7 linked regions of the Homo sapiens genome follow. The protein of the gene in region 6 interacts with the protein of the main gene of each other region in a pairwise test. Each region holds a gene or a part of one and is shown on either strand. Other genes may lie near its edges.

Region 1 (3,500 bases), on a different chromosome or scaffold from region 6:
TAAAAATTAGCCGAGCGTAATGGCACATGCCTGTGGTCCCAACAATTTGGGAGGCTGAGGCGTGAGGATTGCTTGAGCCCAGGAGGTCGAGGCTGCTGTGAAGCATGTTTGAGCCTCCTCACTCCAGCCTGGGCAGCAGAGTGAGATACTGCCTCAAAAACAAGACAACCACCCCCCTGCCCCCTGACAATTCTGTTGTAGGTAATTGAAATTTTGTAAATTTTTGGTTAAAAAAAAAAAAGTCTATGGTAGCGGAAAATATCTTTACACTTTTATTTCCTCTAATATTATTTGAGCCAAGGCCTTCATCTCTGCTTACAATTGCTATAGTATCAGAGAATATTTTGCTAACCACACTTGTAGTTACCATTTTGTTACTTTACAATAAGAACTATCTAAAGAATTGTGCACAGTATTCCCAGTGAGCACACTTCTCTCCTGTGAGTTCAAAGCCTGCCTCTGCTACTAACTAGTTTTGCCATCATGAACAAATCTCTCAACCTTTTTCGTTCTGAGTTTCTTCACAGTAAAACCAGGGACTTAAACTTTCAGTGATTCTCAGCTGAGGAGGCACAATACCTTAAGTGGAACATATTTGAATTTCAGGGGAGAAGGGTGGCTTTGCTGTTTTTAAAAGAAATTATTGGCTGGGCACACTGGCTCAGGCCTGTAATCCCAGCACTTTGGGAGACCGAGGCGGGTGGATGACGAGGTCAGGAGATCAAGACCATCCTGGCTAACACGGTGAAACCTCATCTCTACTAAAAAATACGAAAAATTAGCTGGGTGTGGTGGCAGGCGCCTGTAGTCCCAGCTACTCGGGAGGCTGAGGCAGGAGAATGACGTGAACCCGGGAGGCGGAGCTTGCAGTGAGCTGAGATCTCGCCACTGCACTCCAGCCTGGGCGACAGAGCGAGACTATTATTAATAGTGTAATCATCTGTTGAGGAAACTTTTGAAAATGTTGTTTTCATCATATAAGCTCAGAAGGTTAAATTGGGCATTATTTTTGACTGGTGGGACAGTAATTTAAAAGGGTTTTAAAATGCTGAATTAGATTATGAGGATACTTGTGACTAATTTTTGCATTATATAATTCTGGCAAAGTAACCAATAAATAGACATGTATCATAATTATATAGAGAGAAGACTTGCATACTTTTGATATTTCCCTTTCTCCTAATTTCCCAATCTATTGAGGTAACGCTTATAATCCATTTTTTACTAGGAATCTACAGATAATGGATTTTAGTCTGCACTCATTTACTGTCTATCCATGTATGTAACTTTAGGCAAATAACCAATTTGTATTTATTTTTTTCTGGTGAAAAGGCAATAAAAACTATTCTGTGCACTTCCCAAGGGTATTTTGTGGATCATGTGACGAAATAACAAAGCATAATACTTTGTAAGGTTTCAAGTTCCATATGTTTTAAAGATATTATTTAATATCAGAGTATTACTTCTGCTTTTTTCTTTTGCCTTATATGTATTTTTTATTTTTAATTGACACATAACAATTGTACATATTTATGAGATACAATGTGATGTTTCAATACATTTTATATGTGTAATGATCGAGTCAGGGCAATTAGCATATTCATCTCAAACATTTGTCGTTTCTTCGTGGTGATAACATTCAAAATCCTTTCTTCTAGCTATTTTATTTTGTTACATTATTGTTACCTATATTCACTCTACTGTGCAACGGAACACTGGAACTTAGTTCTTACAATGAATTTGGTGGCTCACACCTGTAATCCTAGCACTTTGGGAGGCCGAAGTGGGAGGATCACTTGAGTCCAGGAGTTTGAGACCAGCCTGGGCAACATAGTGAGACCCTGTCTCTACAAAAAAAATCAAAAAATTAGCTGGGCATGGTAGCATGTGCCTTTAGTACCAACTACTCTGAAGGCTGAGGTGGGAGGATCACTTGAGCCCAGGAGGTCAAGGCTGTAGTGAGCCGTGATCAAGCCACTGCACTCCAGACTCGGTGACACAGAGCAAGACCCTCTCTCAAAAAAGAAACAATAACATTTAAATAAAATATATTATAATATATTTCTCTTCATTTTTGTATATTGTATTCTTGTCTGCATACTTTTTTTCATTTTTTTGAGATGTAATTTATACATCATAAAATTAACTCTTAAATTGTACAACTCAGTAATTTTTAGTATATTCAGAGTTATGTGATTATCACAACTATCTAATTCCAGAGCATTTTTATCACCCGCAGAATAAACCCTGTACCCATTAGCAGTCACATCCCATTCCCTCCTCCCCTCCGTCCCTGGCAACCACAAGTCTTGCTGTCTTAAGGATTTGCCTGTTCTGGACATTTCATATCAGTGGAATCCTACAATATGTGGTCTTTTGTGACTGGCGTCTTTCACTTAGCATAATGTTTTCAGGGTTCATCCATGTTCTAACCATGTATCAGTACTTCGCTCTTTTTTATGGCTGAATAAGAGCCCATTGTGTGGACATACTGTTTGTTTATCCATTCAGTAGTTGATAGACATCTTGATTGTTTCCACTTTTTGGCTATTATAAATAATGCTATTATGAACACTGGTGTACAAGTTTTTGTGTAGACATATGTTTTCATTTCTTTTGGGTATATACCCAGTGTATAATGCTGGGTCATGTGGTAACTTTATGTTTAACTATTTGAGGAACTGCCAAACTGTTTTCCAAAGTGGCTGGACTACTTTACATTCCCTCTAGCAGTGGGAATAGTGTGAGCGTTCCAATTTCTCCATTCCTTTGTTGACACTTATTACTGTCTGTCTGTTTGATTTTAGCTGTCCTAGTGAGTATGAAATGGTAGCTTATTGTGGTTTTGATTTGCATTTCCCTAATGACAGTTACATACATTTTGTCCTTATTGTTGCAATCATTGTTGTATTGGTAGTCTTAGGAGTTTATAACCTTGTTGTTTGGCTGGAAAAAAGAAAAAATCTAATCTTTTCCCATTGTTTGAAAGTTACAAGGCATCTTTACATCCATTATCTAATTTGATTTCCTTAAAAACATCATGAAATAGGGCAAAGATTATTTTTATTTTATAAAGAAACTGACCATTGTGGAGGGATTCTTCCAAGGTCCTACAGCTGATACATGTAGTAGCTCTTCCCTGAGCCTGGGTCTTTGAGTCTTTATATCTTTGTCTGTCTCCCAAATCATGTTGCTATGTTGAGGAGCTTCATGGTTTATGTCCAGGGGACTCAGATTTTTCCTCTGGTTACCTTACAGCTGTAGATCCCACAGGTCACAAGTTTGTGATCCAGGACTTCTACCATATTTAATGTTAGCTGCCATGTATTGATAGCTTTTTCCATGCATTCTTGCTAATTCTCCAACTCTTTCTCATATTTGTATAAATATCTTTCAGACCTTTCCAGCTCACCCCCAGGGCCTTATGGTCAAGAAATGTATGCGTTTCGATCTGAGGAAAGATTCAAATCCCCACCCATCCTTCCTCCTCATCTACTTCA
Region 2 (2,362 bases), on a different chromosome or scaffold from region 6:
CCAATCACAGCTTTGCTTGGATTACACAAGATTGCTTCTAAGGAATAAATAGATGCCTTTATAGTATGTTACCTCAGTGACTTGAGCCACATTGTCCTGATTAAACTAATAGGATGATGGATTCTTAAGAGTAGTATTTTTCAGCTTGGAAAAAATGTTGCCTTGTGATTGACAAAAAAATTGCTTGCCTTTTTAAAATGTAATTCAAGCCATCAAAACAATTTTAAATATTATAACCAAAAACATGTCAAGACAATAAATAGTAACTGCAGAATATTTGTTCAAACTGCATATTTCTCTGTCACCTGCTTCTTTCCCTCCCAGGAGAAAATTACAACTTTGGGGTGATTTTGTCATTTTTCTATCCCTAGTCATCAGCCCTTGACCCTGACTCAGATTGCATGTGGTTTTGTGGGTACCTCTTCACAGTCAACAATGAGTGGTTGGGTCTGTGGGAATAAAGATGCATCACCAATATAGGGACATATCCATGACAACTGTAAAAGCCACCCATCACTTTATTGTCCTACTTTTTTATTAACTTTGAACAATGAAAAGCCTTGAAAGAATGGTTGAGAACAGCAAATTGCTGCTTTCAAATTAATTCAGCCTAAAAATCTATTGATGTTATTTTATTGCGTCGTAAATAAGGAGTAGGTAAAACATTTTGTGCTTTAATAAGTGAGGCACAGCTTAAAAGTTTTAAACAGCAATATAAAAATACAGTACAGTGCATAAATAAATAATATATCTCCACTTCTAGTCGAATTTTGAAACCCTCAGTGTAAATTATAACTTCACTTGAATGGGAGGCACAAGGTACATGTGCTAATGTTCTGTAAATCCAGAAAATCATATCACATAAGATTCAATAAGGAATTAAAGAAATCAAATTAATCACACTTGTGTTAACTAAATAAGAATAGGTCAGATACCTGTTTCCAAGTTATGCTGGGTATATAAAAAGCTTCTCTGCAATCATAGAAAAGTTTGAAAAGGTTCATTGATGAAAGCACCTTGCATTTCAGATGAACTTCAATATTTTGGGGCTTTTTTATATAAGAGCTTTAACAAGTATATATGCACCTGTATATTTGAATAGATATTGATGAAAGGGGCCATACAGGCCTCAGAGTAGTGCACCATCAGAAATATTTTAGGGGATACAGTGTCTTTTAAATTTGAATATTCAAGTATTTAAGTTCTACAAAGTTATATGATACCTCCTGGATGTTTCCTAGAAGTTCTCATATTCATAGTTAGAAACAGGCTTTTTTAAAAAGGAAATGCCGAGTTTCTCAAATCAAATTTCACATAACTTAGAGCTCTATTTCTGTTTTTTTTTTTAATTTTTTTTTTGTTGTTTGTTTTTTGTTGTTTGTTTTTAACATAGCAGGACTTCTTTGGTGATATTTTTTAATATTGGAGAAAACCTTAAAGAGCCTTAAGATTGCTAACTAGAAATTCAAGAGAGGCTTCACATACGTTTTTACGTTGCTGCTCACTTTTCAGGGGGAAGGTTTGTTGGTCTGATAGCTCAAATCTGTATTTCAGAAAATAAAAATTACATTCTTTTCAGCCTACCTCCATATGCATTTTGTAGGGTGGGGTAGAGTTAGAGAATGCTTTTTCTAGCACAAGATTTAGATTAGCTCTGTGTGTACTCACATTGGAGCCACTAGGAATCCTGAGAAAGAGGAGTGGACATACTCAGAGGAGTATAGGCCATTTGACTCGGCATTGGGAAGCTGGAGCCACACCTGGTCATTTTCTGTGAGATCGATGATGGCACTCCCTGAAGCCTGATCCAGGTAGCCTTTGGTGTATTCATCATAGGTGTACATTACAGGGGTGCCATTCTTATACAGGCCTACCCAAACATGAGTCCCTTTCACATGCACGTGGTATGAAAAATAGTATATTCCTGGTATCTGACAAGTAAAGATTCCAGTCCTTGGGTCATAATGCTGTTGCCTGTTATACAAAATTTTATCAAATGGTATGGGAGTTCCTATTGCTGGGTAAGCTTTGGAGAGAATAACAGTAAAAGCAGACACAGGCATTCCTGTTACCCCCTGGTTGGCACTAACAAGAGGGGTCCCAGAAAGACTGGGCCTTTGGCCTGCCTTTATAAAACCCTCAGGCATGACTGCTTGACCTGGTGGGCCTGGAGGCCCAGGGGGCCCTGGAAGACCAGGCTCTCCAGAGTGGCCTCTTGGACCTGGAGGCCCTGGTGGCCCGGTGGGTCCATTGAGGCCCTTAGTTGCTATGCCAGCTGGGCCAGGAGGACCGGGACTTCCTGGATCCCCTTTAGACCCAGGGAATCCTGGAATGCCTGGTGGCCCAATAGGGCCTCTAGTAC
Region 3 (3,500 bases), on a different chromosome or scaffold from region 6:
ACTTCTCAAAAGAAGACATTTATGCAGCCAAAAAACACATGAAAAAATGCTCATCATCACTGGCCATCAGAGAAATGCAAATCAAAACCACAATGAGATACCATCTCACACCAGTTAGAATGGCGATCATTAAAAAGTCAGGAAACAAAAGGTGCTGGAGAGGATGTGGAGAAACAGGAATACTTTTACACTGTTGGTGGGAGTGTAAACTAGTTCAACCATTGTGGAAGACAGTGTGGCGATTTTTTTTTTTTTTTTTTTGAGACAGTCTCGCTGTGTCTCCCAAGCTGGAGTGCAGTGGTGCGATCTCAGCTCACTACAAGCTCCACCTCCCAACTTCATGCCATTCTCCTGCCTCAGCCTCTCGAGTAGCTGGGACTACAGGCACCCACCACCACATCCGGCTAATTTTTTTTGTATTTTTTTAGTAGAGACGGGTTTTCACTGTGTTAGCCAGGATGGTCTCCATCTCCTGACCTCGTGATTCACCTGCCTGGGCCTCCCAAAGTGCTGGGATTACAGGTGTGAGCCACCACGCCTGGCCTGGACTGTTCTTTTCATGGCAAAGCTCCTAGAAGAGAGAAAACAAACTCTAAATAAATAATAGCTATCATTACAATAAGCTGTAGCTAGTTTGATTAACAAATCATCCTAAAATATCCAGACAATATGAAAACATTATTCCTAAAATACTGGTCCCTCATATGCAGCAAGAAAGAAAGAATGAAAGTGATCTATAACAGATTACAACAAATCACACTGTAAAAGAATTCTCATGGTGGTCGGGGTTTGTAGCATGAAAAGATGGTTTCTTTCCTTTACAATGAAAAGAATTAATGAGTTTTTTTTTTTTAAGAAAAAAAACCTCTAGAAATAACTGACATTTGAAATACTTTACACAAAATAAATTGTCAATTTTGTTGTTACTGCCCACAAATACGGGAACCCTTAGCCTCCAATCAATGAAGCTAGAGTGTCTAGTTGCAACATATCATAGCTTTCAAGATTTCTCAAAACAGAGAACAGATTTTCATAAGTATATCTGAAAAAAGCTTCTACAGAAATGTGAGTCTCAGAGAATCCCCCAAGAGGAAATGTCTCACATACACACATAAATAGACAACCTAAAAAAGCACTACGTCTTTTCAAAGAGATGTTAATAGAATAAAATGTAAATTTATCTTAAATAACTAAAAAGCTAGTATAAAATCAACATTTGAGATTCCCAGAATATTTATAATATTTCCAATACAAACCGGTTAGCTTTACAAATAAGTGAGAATCCAACTAAATTAAAATTCAAATATGACTGAAATGTACCCATGTTATCCAAGAAAAATCAATAACCTTCCAATTCCTGAAGCTGGTACTTTATCTGTGAAGCAGTGTTGTATCATAGCTAGACAGATCACATCTCAGGCCAAGGTCCACACTAGCTACTTTCCAGCTGTGTGACCCTGGCTAAATAAACTCTCAGCTTCATTTTTTTTTCTTTTTTTTATTCTATTTTATTGAGATGGGGTCTCGCTATGTTACCCAGGCTGGCCTCAAACTCCCAAGCTCAAGTGATCCTCCTGCCTCAGCCTCCCACAGTGCTGGGATTACAGATGTGAGCCACCACACCTGGGCAGCTTCACTTTTCTTAAATGGAGATAACAGCTCTTCCATCAGGTCATGGGAAGACTAACTCAAATCATATCAGGATTCAGCTCATCTCATGCCTAAAACATATGAAAGCCGATGTATTACCTTTTCACGGGATCTCCCCGTTCTCACCCTCATGCACTCTACAGCTCTGGCCAAAGCCTTCCGCAGGTCATGATTGTTTTTTCTTAGACCTCAATCAGGGTTTCTCCTTCATCCTTTCAAGGTAAAGGGTGAGTCATCTTCCACCTACAGTAGCCATCTTACCACCACATTCAAACATTTAAATCCTTCAATTCCTTTCAAGGCCCAGGAGAAACTTAAATCCTCTCAAGCCCAACACAAACACTACCTCCTCCATGAAGCCCCCTAATTCCTTCAGGTCAATGTTTCTCAGCCCTGGCTCTACCCAATCATGGAGAGAATTTTAAAAAAAAATTAAACAAAATTATCTGAAGCCTGGGCCTTAGCACTGCTGTTGGTCTGAGGTGTGGCCCAAGCATCAGGGATGAAGTGACCTCTCCTTGCACTGAGACCCCACAACGCTTCAGCAGCCCTTTGTACAGGATGGTAGAAAAGTTATTGCTGTTTTCACCCTTAAAAGTAACGGTCAAAACTGCAGCTACTTTCACCAACCTAATACCTTATTTTAATCATATACAAATGCATTTAAAGTATAAACTTCTGGAAAACAGGATCAGTGTTTGATTTATATATCGCCCTCAAGTTACCACAACAACAGTAACTTAAATTGCTAGGCTGCCAGCTATCTCTTGAATGCACAGGTAAATAAATAACATTTCAGTGCCTCTGGAATATAGGATTCAAAGTCATGATTTGAAACAAAAGGTTATCAGTACCTGAATAAATAATCTCCATTTCAACAGCTCAGCTGTTAAGTTCTACTTATATAACTCAGCCAATGCATAAGGGAAGAAATGATTTATTCCAGACAGAGAGAAAACATCACTAAAATAAAGCTAGTACAGGGCTAAACACTTCAGTGGTCCCTCCCTTCCCACCTCCTACCATTCTAAAACACTTAAGAGTTCTCTAAATAGATCAAGCACCCTTCTTCCTCCATGCTTGGATATACACTGCAATCTTTAACCACATTCCTCATCTGGCTTTTACTTCTCATTCTGGAAACACCTTCTACGATGGAAAGCCTTCCCATAGGTGAAACTCCTGGTTCAATATTCCTCTTCCCTATTCCTTTAGCGTTTACTAATATTACTCATATCGCAGCAACTGTCAAAAAGAAATTATTGGCCAAGTGCCACGACTCACAGCTATAATCTGAGCTCTTTGGGAAGCCAAGACAGGAGAGGCACTGAGGAGTTTGAGACCACCCTGGACATCATAGTGAAATCTCATCTCTACAAAAAAAAAAAAAAACACTTAAAAATCTGCCAGGCATGGTGGCATGAGCCTATAGGCCTAGCTACTCAGGAGGCTGAGGCAGGAAAATCACTTCAGCACGGGAGTTTGAAGTTACAACGAGATATGATAGCACTACTGCACTCCAGCTTAGTAAACAGAGACCCTGTCTCTATAAAATAAATTATTGTTTCGCTTATCTAGTCACCTACAAGTTTCTTAGGGGTGGGGAAGCTCTCATCACTGTGACTATATCATCTTATATAATATATGGTACTTATGGGCCGGGCGCGGTGGCTCACGCCTGTAATCCCCACACTTTGGGAGGCCAAGGCAGCTGGATCACCTGAGGTCAGGAGTTCAAGAAAAGCCTGGACAACATGGTGAAACTCCATCTCTACTAAAAATACAAAAAATTAGCCGGACGAGATTGCACCATTGCACTCCAGCCTGAGAAACAAGAGTGAAACTCTGTC
Region 4 (4,016 bases), on a different chromosome or scaffold from region 6:
CCGAGGCCATGGACCGGGGCGAGGACGACGGGGACAGCGGGGCCGAGGAGGAGCACGAGTCCTCGTCCCCCGCTCCCTCGGGGCTCACCTGCAGGAAACCGCGAGGCGCAGGCGGTTCTAGACCCCTCCTCCCCTTCGCATCCCACCTACCCACAAGGGCGCCCCCACCGCCTCCCCTCCCTTCCCCCTGGCCACCCCACCCCACCCCCAGCTTCTTGAGGTCACGATTCTCGCCCTCTTCCCCGAGTCCAAGCTCTGGCTACGCACCCGCTGGGGCTGCCGACCCCTGACCTATTCGGACCCCAGAAGTCTTGCGGCCCTGCCCTCCTCGCGGGCCAGCTAAGCTTCCCACCCCACCCAGACCCTCTCCGCCCCGTCCTCTGTCTGCTGCAGGAGGGGCCAGCTGGGCCCTGGAAGGAGCGCGGGGACAGCGGCCCTTCGTCCTGCGCCGCCTCCCCACGGCCAGTCTTGCCAGCACGCGAGCCCCTCCGCACTCACCAGTCCCTCTTCCCCGGCGCCTTTGCGAGTCCTCCCGGCCGCCAGGGCTGTAGTCCGCCCGCACTCCTCTGACATGAGCCCCTGACACTGCGGAGTAGGAGGGGGAGAAAGTATGGAGAAACAGATCAGAAGTTCCGAGCGTGCTGCCCGCCCCAGCCTCGGCGCGGGGAGCGAGCTAATGAAGGCCCTCAGAGTGCGGGGCAGCGCGTGCAGCCGTCACGGCGCCTGAGCCCGGGCGCCGCGGGCGGGCTGGCGCGCAGCCTCCTTCGCTGGCCGCTGGCGGCCGCCACCCGAGCGCTGGTAGCTCGTCCCGCGCTCCCCGGGCTCCGGGTCTCCGGCGCTCACCCGGGCACGTCGGTTCCCCGCCCCCCCGCCGGGGATAACAAGTTAATAACAATCATCCCCTCACAAAGCTCTTTCTTTCCAGACGTCAATCATAGCGGAGCGGGGAACACCGGGCTAAAGGGGGTGCGGGGCAGTGGGAGGTGGAGTGCGAGAGAAGAAAAGAGGATTGAGGAGGGGGTGGGAGAAGAAACTAGATTTCTTTAATAACCTCAATTAAAAGAGCAAGACACATATATATTTTAAAAAGGGGGCTTTTTGAATAGGATAGCCCGAAAGGTGAAGAGGTTTAATAGGATACTTGAAAGCTAATTACAGCGGGATTTAAGAAGCCTGGTGTTTGTTCCGATGACAATTTGAATGAAAATGCTTCAGATTAAACCGAGCCAGCAGCTCTTTCGTAAACTTACAGCAATTAGAGTGGCGAGTGATTTACACTCGTTTCTTTAAGGTGTAAATTGCCACTTATTGCTCAGTAAGTCAACATTTGAGCTACTAAAGGATTATTTTTAACCAGCGCAAAAAGCGGGTAGAATAATGGAAAATATCCAGCTGAATTTAATTTGTGCCATTAAAAGAACTCACCCAACCTCTGACAAAATGTTTTAAAGAAACAACGCGCGTTACTCAAGTGTTTCCAAGTATTTGCTGGAGTTTTGTTCTTAAACGAAAACGCAGCGTCCCTGGGCTTAGACCGCTTTCGTTTCCAAAAACTCTAGCTCGGGGGCGGGTGGGTACCCCGAACTCGAGCGGCTCGCACTTCTGCATTTCTGACTGTTCGCCTCCCCTTCTCCCTCCCTCTGGAAGCACCAGGCAAGATACCAACCTGGGGGCCTCCCGGACCGTCGGCCGAGACCCTCCCTTTCTGGGGTGCGCTCCCTACGCGGGACCCAGCGTAGCTGCACTGAGGCCGCGTCCTCACACACAAAGGGCGTTTAAACAGAACAGCTCCGCTTTCGCCTGGTGTCCCCAACCGGCTTCGGAGCAAAGAAATAGTCAGGGGCGCCCCGCGCGCGTCCTGCTGAGGCCCTCAGACAGGCTGCAGATGATTTCAAACTTAAAACACCAAATACCCACAGGTCCTGCCTCCCGAGTGAGGTGAGAGCTTGTCAGCTTCCCCAGTCTACTCAGACAAACCGCGTGACTCGTTTTGTGCCCTGCGGTTTTCTTTTGGCATTTTAGGTAAAATGGCTCTCCCGGCAAGCCCAGGGATCCCGGAGGCCTTTCTGGAGCCCCGCAGAGGGAGGTGTGCCTCAGGGCAGGCAAGTGTCCGCGGGCAGCCGAACGAAACGAGCCAGGTCTCCGGTTCCACCCGACAGCCGCCCAGTCCTCCCGACCCACTCTCCCGGACCGCCACGATCACCACAGCAAATAGAACAAAAGCACGACTCACATGGACCTGAGAGCGCCTTAGGCTCGAGGCTTCATCTCCCAAATTACAGTCTCCATGTCTCAGGTTAAGTGAGCTTTTGGGGAGGGAGTGCAATGATTACTGACTAACGCTACTACGTAATAAAAAAAAAAAATTGCCAGGTCTGAAGATGAGGCCGTTACAGGTAGTTTCTGAACCTTGTTTAGGAGCCCAAACAACTCGAGTTTCAAGGACACTGCGATTCAGCTGGTCTGGCCAGGCGTCGGCTCGCTCACCTTCTCAGGGGGAACTGCCAGCTCCGGCACGTCCTTTGCTACTAGTTTACACACAAACATCTGATCGTTCTTCCAATACATGGCACTGCTAGGGCTGCTTATCACATACCAACTCCAGAGGGTCAGAGGCTGTCCGTGTCTGCCGATCTCCCCCCTCCCCCGCCCCGATCCACTAATAAAAGCTGATGCCGAGAAGGATAATGCTACAAGTGTGTCTTCGTCCAAAGAGGCCGCTGTGGCCTGACCACTTTCTGATGAACCGTTCTTAAAATTCCTTTCCCAGCTTCACTGAGCTCTGAGTGAAGTGAGCACTGAGCTTTTCCTGAGTCCCTCCAGGAAAAGAAAAAAAAAAAAGTTTTGTTTTCCAGAGGGTGGAACCTAATATAAAGGAAGGGGGCGTGTGGGGGAAAGTCTTTCCTGGAGAAATTGCTTCGCCTCTTTCAGGAAAACCCGCCTTCTCTACATGTTAAAATCTTTATCAGAACACGCCAACTGACTTCAGGTTTAGTACTAAAGAAAAAAAAATTGGGGGATGTCCTGTTAACTTGACTTTAAAAAATCTGCTGTCTGCATTTGCCATAACTTTTAAATTCTCGCTCCCCAACCCAAACCTAAACAAAGATTCAGGTTACATCTCTTTCTGCAGCAAGCAGAAGGGGAAGTGGAGGTCTGGGTGACTTGAAAGTTTTAGTCATTCTCTTGAAACTCGCAGCTGTCCGGTGTAGCCGAGGAATGCCACCGCTCCTGGCAGCCTGGGAGCTGACTTATCTAGCAGTTCGCGCTCCCTTTCCGAAAAGTTTTCTCATTAAGATAAAGAAGGAACATCTGAGCAACACAAAAGCTTATGATTTGCGACTAGATTTGAAATCAAGGCTACAAGAAAGACAAAAGTATGTTGCTAATGAGTATTGCTCTTTCATCTCCTAGACAAAATGTAAGCCCGAGCAGCCTTGTCTTCTGCCTCAAGTTCTGACTGCGGGGCGGGGAAGCGGCGGAGGGAGGTATTCAGGGTACCTTAATTTTGATTAAGATTGGAAGGTGTGTTTGTTTAAACAGACTCTTTGTGGTATAAACTTTATTTCATTATTTAGTGTATAAAGACAAATTTGGTTAAAAGATTATTTTTAAATGATTTTTGTTTCCATTTAAAAAGCTAAACTTCTGAAACTAAGAAGATCTAGGAGTCTATTTCTTAAAGGCCTTTAACAGAATCATAGGATTTTGCTTTAATTAGATGGAAATATATATGTAAAACACACACACGCACACACACATATCTTATCTCCTTGCCTTATTTGTATAGAAGAAAAAGAGCGAAATGATCTTGCCCAGACCCCAGCTCGGTCAGCAGCCGGCTAGCGGAGGAGATAGATAGCCTTTCCTGTGATGAAGTGAGCCTGTGTAAGAGTCTGGGACCGAGTTACCACTACAAATTTAGTTTTTCCTCCATTGCATTTTTCTCCCATAAACACTAGAGTCTTCAGAGCATTTTCCTATCGCCATTGTTTTTCTTTTCGCGCAGCTGCGCA
Region 5 (3,500 bases), on a different chromosome or scaffold from region 6:
AAAATAGAAATAAAAAAGTCAATACTTGGAAGCCAAGCTAAAAAATTAAAAGTTAAAATAAAAAAACTGAACAGAGGCCTACAGGGTGGCTCACGCCTGTAATCCCAGCACTTTGGGAGGCCGAGACGGGCAGATTACGAGGTCAGGAGATCGAGACCATCCTGGCTAACATGGTGAAACCCTGTCTCTACTAAAAAAATAGAAAAAAATTAGCCAGGCATGGTGGCGGGCACCTGTAGTCCCAGCTACTCGGGAGGCTGAGGCAGGAGAATGGTGTGAAACCGGGAAGTGGAGCTTGCAGTGAGCCGAGATTGCGCCATTGCACTCCAGCCTGGGCGACAGAGCGAGACTCCGTCTCAAAAAAAAGAAAAGAATAACTAGGATATGGAACTCTCAGGAAAATAAATTAAAACTCAGAGTTGCTAGATTATCTAAAAGTCAATATTCAACAAAAAGATAAGAGACATGCAAAGAAACATGAAAGTGTGACCTACACTCAAGACAAAAAACCCTGTCAATAAAACTGACTCTCAGTGATCCCAGATACTGGATTTATAAATATGCTCAAAGAACGATAGGAAATTAAGTTAAAAGGTTAAATGAAAATATACTAATACTTAATCAACAAGAGAATCTCAAGAGAAACTGAAACTATGAAATAAGGAACCAAATAGAAATTCCAGAGTTGAAAATGCAAAAACTGAAATGAAATACATATTAGAGGGGCTAAGTGGCAGAGTCACAACAGGAGTCAATGAACTAGAATATATAGATACCCATATAGAGAAATTATCCAATCCAAAGCACAGAGAGAAAATTGAAGAAAAATGAACAAAGCTTCAGAGACTTGTGAAAAGATGAATGTCAAGCATTCCACCATATATGTAATGGAAATCCCAGAAAGCAGGGAGAGACAAAAGGGAACAGAAAAAAAAAACCATGAAGAAATAACAGATGAAATACTTCCAAATTTGGTGAAAAACTTGAATCTACATACCCAAGAAGTTAAATGGACCTCAAGTAGGATTAAGAAAGAACTTGGATACATCCCAGTCAAACTAACACCAGAAGACAAAAAGAAAACCTTAAAACCAGCAAGACAAAACTGACTCATATACATGATACAAAAATAATTTCCTCTGACTTTCCATCAAAAATAATAGAGGCCAGAGGGCACAGGGATGGCGTATTTGAAGTACTGAAAGAAAACTCTGTCAATCAAGAATTCTATATCCCAGGTAGGGCCGGGCACAGTGGCTCACGCCTGTAATCCCAGTACTTTGGGAGGCCAAGGCGTGTGGATCACCTGAGGCCAGGAGTTTGAGACCAGCCTGAACTACATGACGAAACCCTGTCTCTACTAAAAAGACAAAATTAGCCGGGCGTGGTGGTGCACACCTGTAGTCCCAACTACTTGGGAGGCTGAGGCAGGAGAATTGCTTGAACCTGGAAGGTGGAGGATGCAGTGAGCTGAGATCTCACCACTGCACTCCAGCCTGGGCAACAAGAATAAAGCTCTGTCACAAAAAAAAAAAAAAATTCTATATCCTGGGTAAACGAAGATTGAGGGAATCCACTGTCAGCAGAACTGTACTGCAAGAAATATTAAAGGAAACCGTCTGGCTGGAAAAACATGACACTGGATGATAACTCAGATCCACAGGAAGGAATGAAGAGCAACAGAAGTGATAAATATCTGGGTAAATACATATTTTTCTTTTCTTCCCTTACCTTCTTTAAACATGAGACTGCTTAAAGCAGTAATTATAACACTAGATTATTGGCTTTAAACATGTAGCTATAATATATTTGACAATAGTATCACACAGGAAGAGAGTGAAAGTAGAAGTATGCTGGTGCAAAGTGGCTGTGTATATATATATATTTTTTGAGATGGAGTCTCGCTCTGTCGCCCAGGCTGGAGTGCAGCGGTGCGATCTTGGCTCACTGCAAGCTCCGCCTCCCAGGTTCACGCCATTCTCCTGCCTCAGCCTCCCAAGTAGCTGGGACTACAGGTGCCCGCCACTACGCCCAGCTAATTTTTTTGTATTTTTAGTAGAGACGGGGTTTCACCGTGTTAGCCGGGATGGTTTCGATCTCCTGACCTCGTGATCTGCCCGTCTCGGCCTCCCAAAGTGCTGGGATTACAGGCGTCAGCCACCGCGCCCAGCCAAAATGGCTGTATTTTTACCAGAATTAAGTCAGTATTAATTTGTAATAGATTATGATTAGGTACAGATGCAACCCCTTTTATGAAAGCTAAAAAAAAGAAAAATCAGGGGCCGGGTGTGGTGGCTCACTCCTGTAATCCTAGCACTTTGGGAAGCCGAAGCAGGTGGATCACCTGAGGTTGGGAGCTTGAGATCAATCTGACCAACATGGAGAAACCCTGTCTCTACTAAAAATACAAAATTAGCCAGGCATGGTGGTGCATGCCTGTAATCCCAGCTACTTAGGAGGCTGAGGCAGGAGAATCGCTTGAACCCAAGAGGCGGAGGTTGCAGTGAGCAGAGATCCTGCCATTGCACTCCAGCCTAGACAACAAGAGCGAAAACTCCATCTCAAAAAAAAAAAAAAAAAAAAGAAAAAGAAAAAGAAAAAGAAAAAGAAAAAGAAAAATCAGAAGAATGACAGTGGTTTTCTGAAATGTTTGTTTGACTTTAAGAAGGCAACAAAGAAGAAATAGGGCTAGGCACAGTGGCTCACGCCTGTAATTCTAGCACTTTGAGAGGCTTAGGTGGACAGATCACCTAAGGTCAGAAGTTTAAGACAAGACTGGCCAACACAGAGAAATCCTGTCTCTACTAAAAGTACAAAAATTAGCTGGGTGTGATGGCGCGTGCCTGTGGTCCCAGCTACTCAGGAAGCTGAGACAGGAGAATTGCTTGAACCCAGGAGGCAAAGGTTGCAGTGAGCAGAAGTTGCAGTGAGATCATGCCACTGCACTTCAGCCAGGGCAATGGAGCAAGACTGTCTCAAAAAAAAAAAAAAAAAGACAAAATAGGCCAGGCATGGTAGCTAAGGCCTATAATCCCAGCACCTTGGGAGGCCAAGGCAGGAGGATTGCCTGAGCTCAGGAGTTCGAGACCAGCCTGGGCAACATAGTGAGACCTTATCTCTACTACAAAAAAAAAAGTTAGCTGGGCGTGGCGGCATGTACTTTTAGTTCCAGCTACTCAGGAGGCTGACGTGGGAGGATCACTTGAGCCCAGGAGGTTGAGGCTGCAGTGAACTATGATCATGCTATCACACTCCAGCCTGGGGAACAGAGTGAGACCTTGTCAATCAATCAATTCATTCATTCATTCATTCATTCAAAAAGACTAAAATTATACAAAGTATATTCTCTGAACACAATAAAATTAATTAAAAATTAACAACAGAAAGATATCAAAAAAACCCCAAATATTTAGAAATCAAACAACCACAAGGAAAATTAAAAATGATGCCAAGTTTAATGAAGCTGAAAACACAACATAAAAAAAGTATGATATCCTGAG
Region 6 (3,500 bases):
AGCACTTTGGGAGGCCCGGGGGGGTGCAGATTCTGTGAGTCCAGGAGTTCGAGACCAACCCGGGCAACACAGCAAAACCCTGTCTCTACAAAAAGTACGAAAAAATAAAATAAAATGCAGCCTTACAAGGAGATGCAGTTAGACAAGGGAAAAGTATCTTAATAGGCTCTTCAGATAATTATGGAGATTCCTCTTTGACACCACACCAACACGCAACAAGTGTGTTTTATTTTTCCTTAAAGGCTGTTTGCAATATGGAATGTGAACTGTATCCATGAGCTTCTGCACTTTATGGCTTTAAGATCCATTGGCTTGACTTGTACTCTAAATGGATCTTTTACCCAGGCGTGATCCCGCATCGACCATCTGGAAAATGTTGCTTCACCGAGTTAGGCAGCTCTTGCAAATGTTGTTCAGTCTATAATATCAAAAGCATACGGTTCATCAGCATTAGCACTGGCATCTGATTTATTGGGAGCTCTCGGGCTCACGGTGGCAAAGACAAACTTTCCAAAACTCCAACTTCACTTGACAGCTCAAACTTTATCACTGGCAACAAACACTGTTAGCTGACTTCTTTGAGGTGAGAGGCTAACTTCACTCATTTAGTAAGAGATGTCAGTAATCTGTAAATTATTTTTTTATAGTGTTCCATGAAAAGAGCAGCTAGTTCAACTACAACTCAAATAATCCCTCAACAACCACCCAACTTCAAAATACAATGAAAGTGCTTTCCGTGGACTTGCCATTTTATCAGAGCAGAATCACTGATTTTGTGAAACAGCTCATCTGCTGAGTTGGCCGGGGCACACCCAACACTGTGCCATGAACTGCTGTCATGCGTCTTGTTAGCAACGGGAGAAACTGGGTACCAGGCACAAGGGCACTCCCTATGCTATCTCTGCCACATATGTATACATCTCAAAATGTTCCAAAATAGAAGGTTTGCAAATAAGTATGTCTTTAGGATAAAAATAACAAAACCCTGCCAATACACGATGTGCCCCACCTGCTACCACCAAATCCTTGCCTGCCAACCTCTTTAAGCACGTTCCAAACCCTCACCCAAGCCCATCCTCAAGTGTGGCTCTTCCCAAGAGCTGCTGAATCCCAAGCAAGCCATCTGGGTCCAGATCCACCATCAGACTGAAATTCATCTCCCAGGTGTCAGACAAGAGCCCCACAAGCAAGCTCCTGACTGCGTGGGCACCTGCCACGGCCAGTGTTTCGCATCTCCCCTCCCTGTGGCCATCCTCACGGTCCGCGGGGCCTCTGCTCTGCTCCAGAAGCCCCCAGAAGGTGGGCAGGAGGTTTGGCTGGTGTGCATGAGGGCCAGCCCCCAGTGAAGGTGCCCCTTGGGACTGTCTCCCAGGGTGGGGGTAGGAGGTGCCGGGGACACCTGTCACCCCCAGGTCTCCATCTCCTGCCTTGACCTCTCACCGGCACTTTCTTCAGTCCAGGGTTTAAACCCCGTCTAGGCCATGGTCACTCGGATCAGCCATCCCAGCACTTCCACAGCTGAACCCTCCTCACTTCCCTGTTATCTTTCTCCCCAAGAATACTACCAGGAGTCCCGGCCACCTCCCTGCGGCCCCACCCTCATCGCCCTGCTCTCGCCCTTCCGCATCCCGAGGCTCCTCCCTCTCTGACTCCCCCTCAGCCCACCCCCTCACCCGGGACCTGGGCTCTCACCGAGTACCCTGGCACCCATCGCTCCGAAGGGTGGCATCGCCCCTCTGCCACACACACTCCGATCTGGCCGTCTCTTTGTCCTCCAATGCTCCATGTGTCCCTCCCAAAACCACACGGGCTGCAGCAGGAAGACCATGGCCGCTAAGCCCTTCTGTGGCTGACGCCAGCGCTGTTCCTCCAGGGGGCCTCCTCCCCGGAGAGCCTGCTAGTACCAAGCCTGGTCAGCCGCCTCCCTCGCAAGCAGCCTCACACCTCAGCTCCTCTGTGCAGGGCCCAGGCCTCTCCCCATCCAGCCACTGCCTCTCTACACAACCTCGTCTTATTCCTTCCCAGGGCAAACACACTCTAGGTCAGGGGGTGGCACGTGAGGGCCCACAACCCAGCCCAGCTCTCCACCTGCTTCTATGCAGCCTGTGAGCCAGGAATGGGTTTTACATTTTAAAACAGAAAAATAACAAAAGAACAATATTTCATGATGAGAAAATTACATAAAACTCAAATGTCAGCGTCCACAAACAAGGTGCCTGCTTCTCAGCCCAACAGCAGAGTCGAGCGGCTTCACAGTGGCACGAGACATCCCACGCCCCACAAGGCCAGAAACACTTACACTCTGACCCTCACAGAAAAGCGTGCCATCCCGTCCTGGGCCTCTGGGATCCATCAGTGAACTCCACAAAGATCTCCACCCCTGTGGGCATGCACGGTGTCACCACCCAGTCCCCAGTGTACGTGCCAACATCATGCTGAGGTTGCTCCCCTCACTGCCAAGGCGCCGCAAGGTCCTCCCTCCCCCATGAGAATTCTCTATGTCTGCAAAGGATGGATCCCGAAGCCTCCACGCATTCTGGGCCTTCCCCTCTGCAAACACTGCTGGGCTGTGAGTTTGTGCCGCTGAGCTCACTGGTGGATTTTCTACTGTGAGGTTATTAGTCTGATCTCCATAGAGATTAAAATCAACTTGGATGAGAAGCCACATGTTCAATCACAGTCACCCCTAAGCAAGCGGCTTAACGGGAATAGTTTTTGCTTGTTTTTTCTTGAGACAGGGTCTCACTCTGCCGCCCAGGCTGGAGTGCAGTGGTGCAATCATGGCTCACTGCAGCCCTGCAGCCTCCAATTCCCGGGCTCGAGTGATCCTCCAGTTTCCGCTTCCCAAAGCGCTGGGAGCTTTGGGCCACCATGCCTGGCCCAGTGGATGGCCTTTTAAAAAGTACTTTATACACTACATCCAGAGTTACCCAAATTCAGTCAAATGCTGTGCATAACCACCCGCTAGTAGACACACATCACAGAAGAGTGGTTTCCACGCTCTCGACTGGGGCCTACGATGGTAAGTTCATACACTCATCACTGCAAGTTTCCTGAGTCGATACCTACCCGTTAGCCACTCCGAACCATGCTCCTTTTATCCAAGGCATGCTCCATTTTATCCAGTATTCTTAACACTGGCCATGGCCCACTCAATTGATGTGGGTTCAGACCCAAAGTTTGAAAAATAATGCACTCAAAATAAGACCAATGTCAGTTTCTAGGGACTCAGAGTTCAAGAACATGAGGGAACGTGGCACAAACGACCAAGGACCACCACCTAACATGACCTACACCACAAAGAGGAGAGCCAGAAATTGTAAGACAACAGGCCAATTATTGCAAACTGTGTTTGCCCACTGACAGTCACAACTGTTGGCTGGGAAACAGGGCACCCAGCCTTCTAAAAACACTTAGGGTGTGAACTTTCTCAATCTCAGGGACGCATTTCGGCAGAAAACGCAGACTGGCAGCGGCAGCACTCTGCTCAGGGACCCACC
Region 7 (3,500 bases), on a different chromosome or scaffold from region 6:
CAAATCTATAATCTTTTTGTCCTTTTGCCTCCTCAGCATTCGTTCATAAGCATAGCGAGCATCACTGTCCGAGGCTGCACAGTGCTTCGTCTTGCGTATGCATCCTGCTTTGTTCACCATGTCTCTGGAGTTACGCATTTACTTGCTTGTTGCTTTCACCACTATAAACCATGCCTCATTTCCCTCTCCTGTTAGGCAGATCTGACCCTTCAGCCTGCCTCTTCCAGCCATGGTCAGACTGTTGTTAGTCCAGCGCCTGAGGGAGAGTACTTTCAGAGTTCCAGGCCCTTGTGTGACCTCCACCCTTAAGGTGACTCTTGGCACCCACAGGCCAATCAGCTGTATTCTTAGAGAGCTCTCAGAATACAGGCTGGTGGGCTATTTCCCTAAGGAAAAGCTGGGTGGGTTCTCACTGGGGTTGGAACCAAGGGGAGATGAGGAAATGGGAATAGGTTGGACGCCCTTGGTGGAGCTTCATAGTTTGATTTTACATCAGAGTTGGAAAGCAAAGCATACCCTTCTGCTACAGCTAGTGGTTTCCCCACCTGCGCCTGAGCTATGGACTGGGCAGGGGCCAAGTGCCCAGCAAGGAGCACAGGGAAGGAGCAGGAGGTGGAGAAGCTCAGAGGCAGGCTGCAGTAGGCTCCTCGCCCTTCTCACCATGCGGATGTCTCCTCCCTTGGCCCTATGGGAATATGGAGGGCTCACATTCTCCTCTCTGTGCAGGAGCAGGTCTCCACACTCTTTGGGAGGAGGAAGTTGACTTCTTTCTAACAGTTGCTGTCCTGTCATTCATTCATTCATTCATTCATTCAGCAAAGGCTTCCTGAGCTCCTGTCCTGTTGCAGGCTTGATTAAGTACTACAGATGTGAAGGTGAATTGACATATTTGGGTTCTTAGAGTTTGCCTTCTAGCAGACCACAAACAAGTAAATATAATGTTGCACGTGGTGCATGCAGGCCTTTGGTGCCCAGGACAGTGAGGGCATGGAGGAGGGAGTGTTGTCTGTGTCTGAGAGCACTGGGCAAGCCTCAAGGGGAGACTGTGCCTGAGGTGCATTTTGGAATGAGTTCACAGGTACGATGGGAATGAAGCTGCCCACATGTACTTGGGAGTTGGGGGAAGAGTGGGGACACTTGACTCTCACAAGAAGCATGGCTCTGAGAAAATCAGAGACCGCGCAGAAGCTGACAGGGCATGTGATGTGGACAAAGGGGCCACCAGGCTGGGAGGCAGGTCTGGTAGACCGAGGAGCAATGGGTTGAAATTAGGGTCGGGACAGAGAGGGCTGCATGAGGAGCAAAGACCATGAAGTCCATGGTCCTCCAACACTGCGACCCTCATGCTGCGGCCTCCCTGTGCCCTCAGCACTCAGCCAGGGCCAGAGGTAGCTCGAGCATGGAGCAGGGGCTGAGGGTGCATGGCTTCCTCATGATGGAGTCTACTTGTTGACAGATGACCCAGAAACTTCTGAAGGGCCCCCAAGGCCCTAATGCAGCCCCCAGAGCAGGCTCTTTCCCTTCCCCTGCAGACTCTCCATTTCATGCCTGGTTAATCCCCAGGAACCACTTTTGACAGGGGAATCCTACGTTTCTCTCTACTGAGCTGTAGAGGCTGCTGCCCATGGGCATTTTCAGCAGAGACCTCAGTCCCTACTCTGCCTCAGGGAGGTGGGCCCTGGAGGATGGTGCCATCCATGCTCCTTGTCTCCTGAGAGGTGGTGCAGTCAGCACACCCATCCCACAGACAGCGGAGGAGGCCTGAGCATCAGGGTCCTGTCTGATGCCAGCTCATGATGCACTGTGCCTGAGTGATGAATGCCCATCTCACTGCCTGTCGCTTCCTCTCTCTGCAGGGCCCTGTGGCCGAGTGTGTCCAGCCCAGTGTCATGGGGAGCTTCCATATCTCATGGCTCCTTGCTGGGCCAAGCCCTCCAGAACCCCAAACCCCCAAAGACTGATGAATGCCAGAGTGGCCACCTTGCTTATCTGTGGCCCCGGCCCTGGTGATCACCATGGCAGCTGGGAAGGGAGCCCCGTTGAGCCCATCGGCTGAAAACAGATGGCGACTTAGCGAACCTGAGCTGGGCCGGGGCTGCAAGCCAGTGCTGCTCGAGAAGACGAACCGCCTGGGCCCTGAGGCTGCTGTGGGCAGGGCGGGCCGGGATGTGGGCAGTGCGGAGCTGGCACTGTTGGTAGCCCCAGGCAAGCCCCGACCTGGCAAGCCGCTGCCCCCGAAGACACGTGGAGAGCAGAGGCAGAGCGCCTTCACGGAGCTGCCGAGGATGAAGGACCGGCAGGTGGATGCTCAGGCCCAGGAGAGGGAGCACGATGACCCCACAGGCCAACCTGGTGCCCCACAGCTGACCCAGAACATCCCCAGAGGCCCAGCTGGCAGCAAAGTCTTCTCTGTGTGGCCCAGCGGAGCACGAAGTGAGCAAAGAAGCGCCTTTAGCAAACCAACCAAGCGACCAGCAGAGAGGCCTGAGCTAACCTCAGTCTTCCCTGCAGGGGAATCTGCAGATGCCCTGGGGGAGCTGTCTGGACTCCTCAACACTACAGACCTCGCTTGTTGGGGTCGACTTTCAACTCCCAAGCTTTTGGTTGGTGATTTGTGGAACTTGCAAGCATTGCCACAGAATGCTCCACTCTGTAGCACTTTTCTGGGTGCCCCTACACTGTGGCTGGAGCATACCCAGGCCCAGGTGCCCCCACCCTCATCATCCTCCACCACTTCGTGGGCCCTCCTGCCACCCACCCTCACCTCCCTGGGCTTGTCCACCCAGAACTGGTGTGCAAAGTGCAACCTGTCCTTTCGCCTAACGTCCGACCTGGTCTTTCACATGCGATCCCACCACAAAAAGGAGCATGCGGGGCCTGACCCACATTCTCAGAAGCGGAGAGAAGAGGCCCTTGCCTGCCCTGTGTGCCAGGAGCACTTCCGGGAGCGCCACCACCTCTCCCGGCACATGACTTCTCACAGCTAGCAGGTGACCGCAGAATGACCTGCTGGGTGCAGCAGCCAGCCTTTGGCAGAGGGGGGCTCCCTGGGCCTGCGTTGAGGGGGCTGTCATGGTCCTTTGCAGAGCTGCTGCTTTTGGCATTCATAGATAAACAGCTCAGGCATAATTTGAAAAAGCCACACCTGCATGATGTGTTTTGAAGGAAATGAAGTCCTGAAATAAAGTGATGGGCTTTGCAAATCCAGGGTAGAGGCCCTAACAGGCACAGAGAGCAGGGGCAACTCCTGGCACACATCATGGGCTTTGGAGGCACACAAGCCTGGATTCGAATCTGGGCTCTTTCACATACTAGCTGTGACCCTGGACAAAGAGCTTTAACCTGCTGAGTCCCCATTTTCTCATCTGTGAAATGGAGATGATAACACTGTGTCTTAGGTTGGCATTCAGGTCACATGAAAGGTGTGTGGAAAGTGGCCAGCATTCTGCCTGCAGACCCTGAGCACTGAGTCAACAAGGTTTGTGATGATGTCTGTACTA

Evidence for each region.
Region 1: the proteins of BANP (region 6) and PRKAB2 interact in binary tests that used the Homo sapiens proteins (3 or more experiments, as listed by UniProt).
Region 2: the proteins of BANP (region 6) and COL10A1 interact in binary tests that used the Homo sapiens proteins (3 or more experiments, as listed by UniProt).
Region 3: the proteins of BANP (region 6) and FARS2 interact in binary tests that used the Homo sapiens proteins (3 or more experiments, as listed by UniProt).
Region 4: the proteins of BANP (region 6) and LHX8 interact in binary tests that used the Homo sapiens proteins (3 or more experiments, as listed by UniProt).
Region 5: the proteins of BANP (region 6) and SETDB1 interact in binary tests that used the Homo sapiens proteins (3 or more experiments, as listed by UniProt).
Region 7: the proteins of BANP (region 6) and ZNF488 interact in binary tests that used the Homo sapiens proteins (3 or more experiments, as listed by UniProt).

Annotation. Positions count from the first base shown.
Region 1 is NC_000001.11:147,162,471-147,165,970, reverse strand, and holds part of PRKAB2 (5'-AMP-activated protein kinase subunit beta-2), read left to right. Parts: intron 1-3,397; coding exon 3,398-3,500. UniProt on the Homo sapiens protein: Non-catalytic subunit of AMP-activated protein kinase (AMPK), an energy sensor protein kinase that plays a key role in regulating cellular energy metabolism.
Region 2 is NC_000006.12:116,118,409-116,120,770, forward strand, and holds the end of COL10A1 (collagen alpha-1(X) chain precursor), read right to left. Parts: coding exon 1,665-2,362; 3' UTR 501-1,664; downstream 1-500.
Region 3 is NC_000006.12:5,264,513-5,268,012, reverse strand, and holds part of FARS2 (phenylalanine--tRNA ligase, mitochondrial), read right to left. Parts: intron 3,024-3,500; exon of another isoform or gene 2,935-3,023; intron 572-2,934; exon of another isoform or gene 490-571; intron 1-489. UniProt on the Homo sapiens protein: Is responsible for the charging of tRNA(Phe) with phenylalanine in mitochondrial translation.
Region 4 is NC_000001.11:75,133,172-75,137,187, reverse strand, and holds the start of LHX8 (LIM/homeobox protein Lhx8), read right to left. Parts: upstream 2,801-4,016; 5' UTR 2,234-2,800; intron 806-2,233; exon of another isoform or gene 586-805; coding exon of another isoform or gene 574-585; coding exon 499-573; intron 89-498; coding exon 1-88. UniProt on the Homo sapiens protein: Transcription factor involved in differentiation of certain neurons and mesenchymal cells.
Region 5 is NC_000001.11:150,932,863-150,936,362, reverse strand, and holds part of SETDB1 (histone-lysine N-methyltransferase SETDB1), read right to left. Parts: intron 1-3,500. UniProt on the Homo sapiens protein: Histone methyltransferase that specifically trimethylates 'Lys-9' of histone H3. H3 'Lys-9' trimethylation represents a specific tag for epigenetic transcriptional repression by recruiting HP1 (CBX1, CBX3 and/or CBX5) proteins to methylated histones.
Region 6 is NC_000016.10:87,957,934-87,961,433, reverse strand, and holds part of BANP (protein BANP), read right to left. Parts: intron 1,564-3,500; exon of another isoform or gene 1,441-1,563; intron 1-1,440. UniProt on the Homo sapiens protein: Controls V(D)J recombination during T-cell development by repressing T-cell receptor (TCR) beta enhancer function. Binds to scaffold/matrix attachment region beta (S/MARbeta), an ATC-rich DNA sequence located upstream of the TCR beta enhancer.
Region 7 is NC_000010.11:47,367,294-47,370,793, reverse strand, and holds part of ZNF488 (zinc finger protein 488), read left to right. Parts: intron 1-1,856; 5' UTR 1,857-1,964; coding exon 1,965-2,987; 3' UTR 2,988-3,500. UniProt on the Homo sapiens protein: Transcriptional repressor. Plays a role in oligodendrocyte differentiation, together with OLIG2. Mediates Notch signaling-activated formation of oligodendrocyte precursors.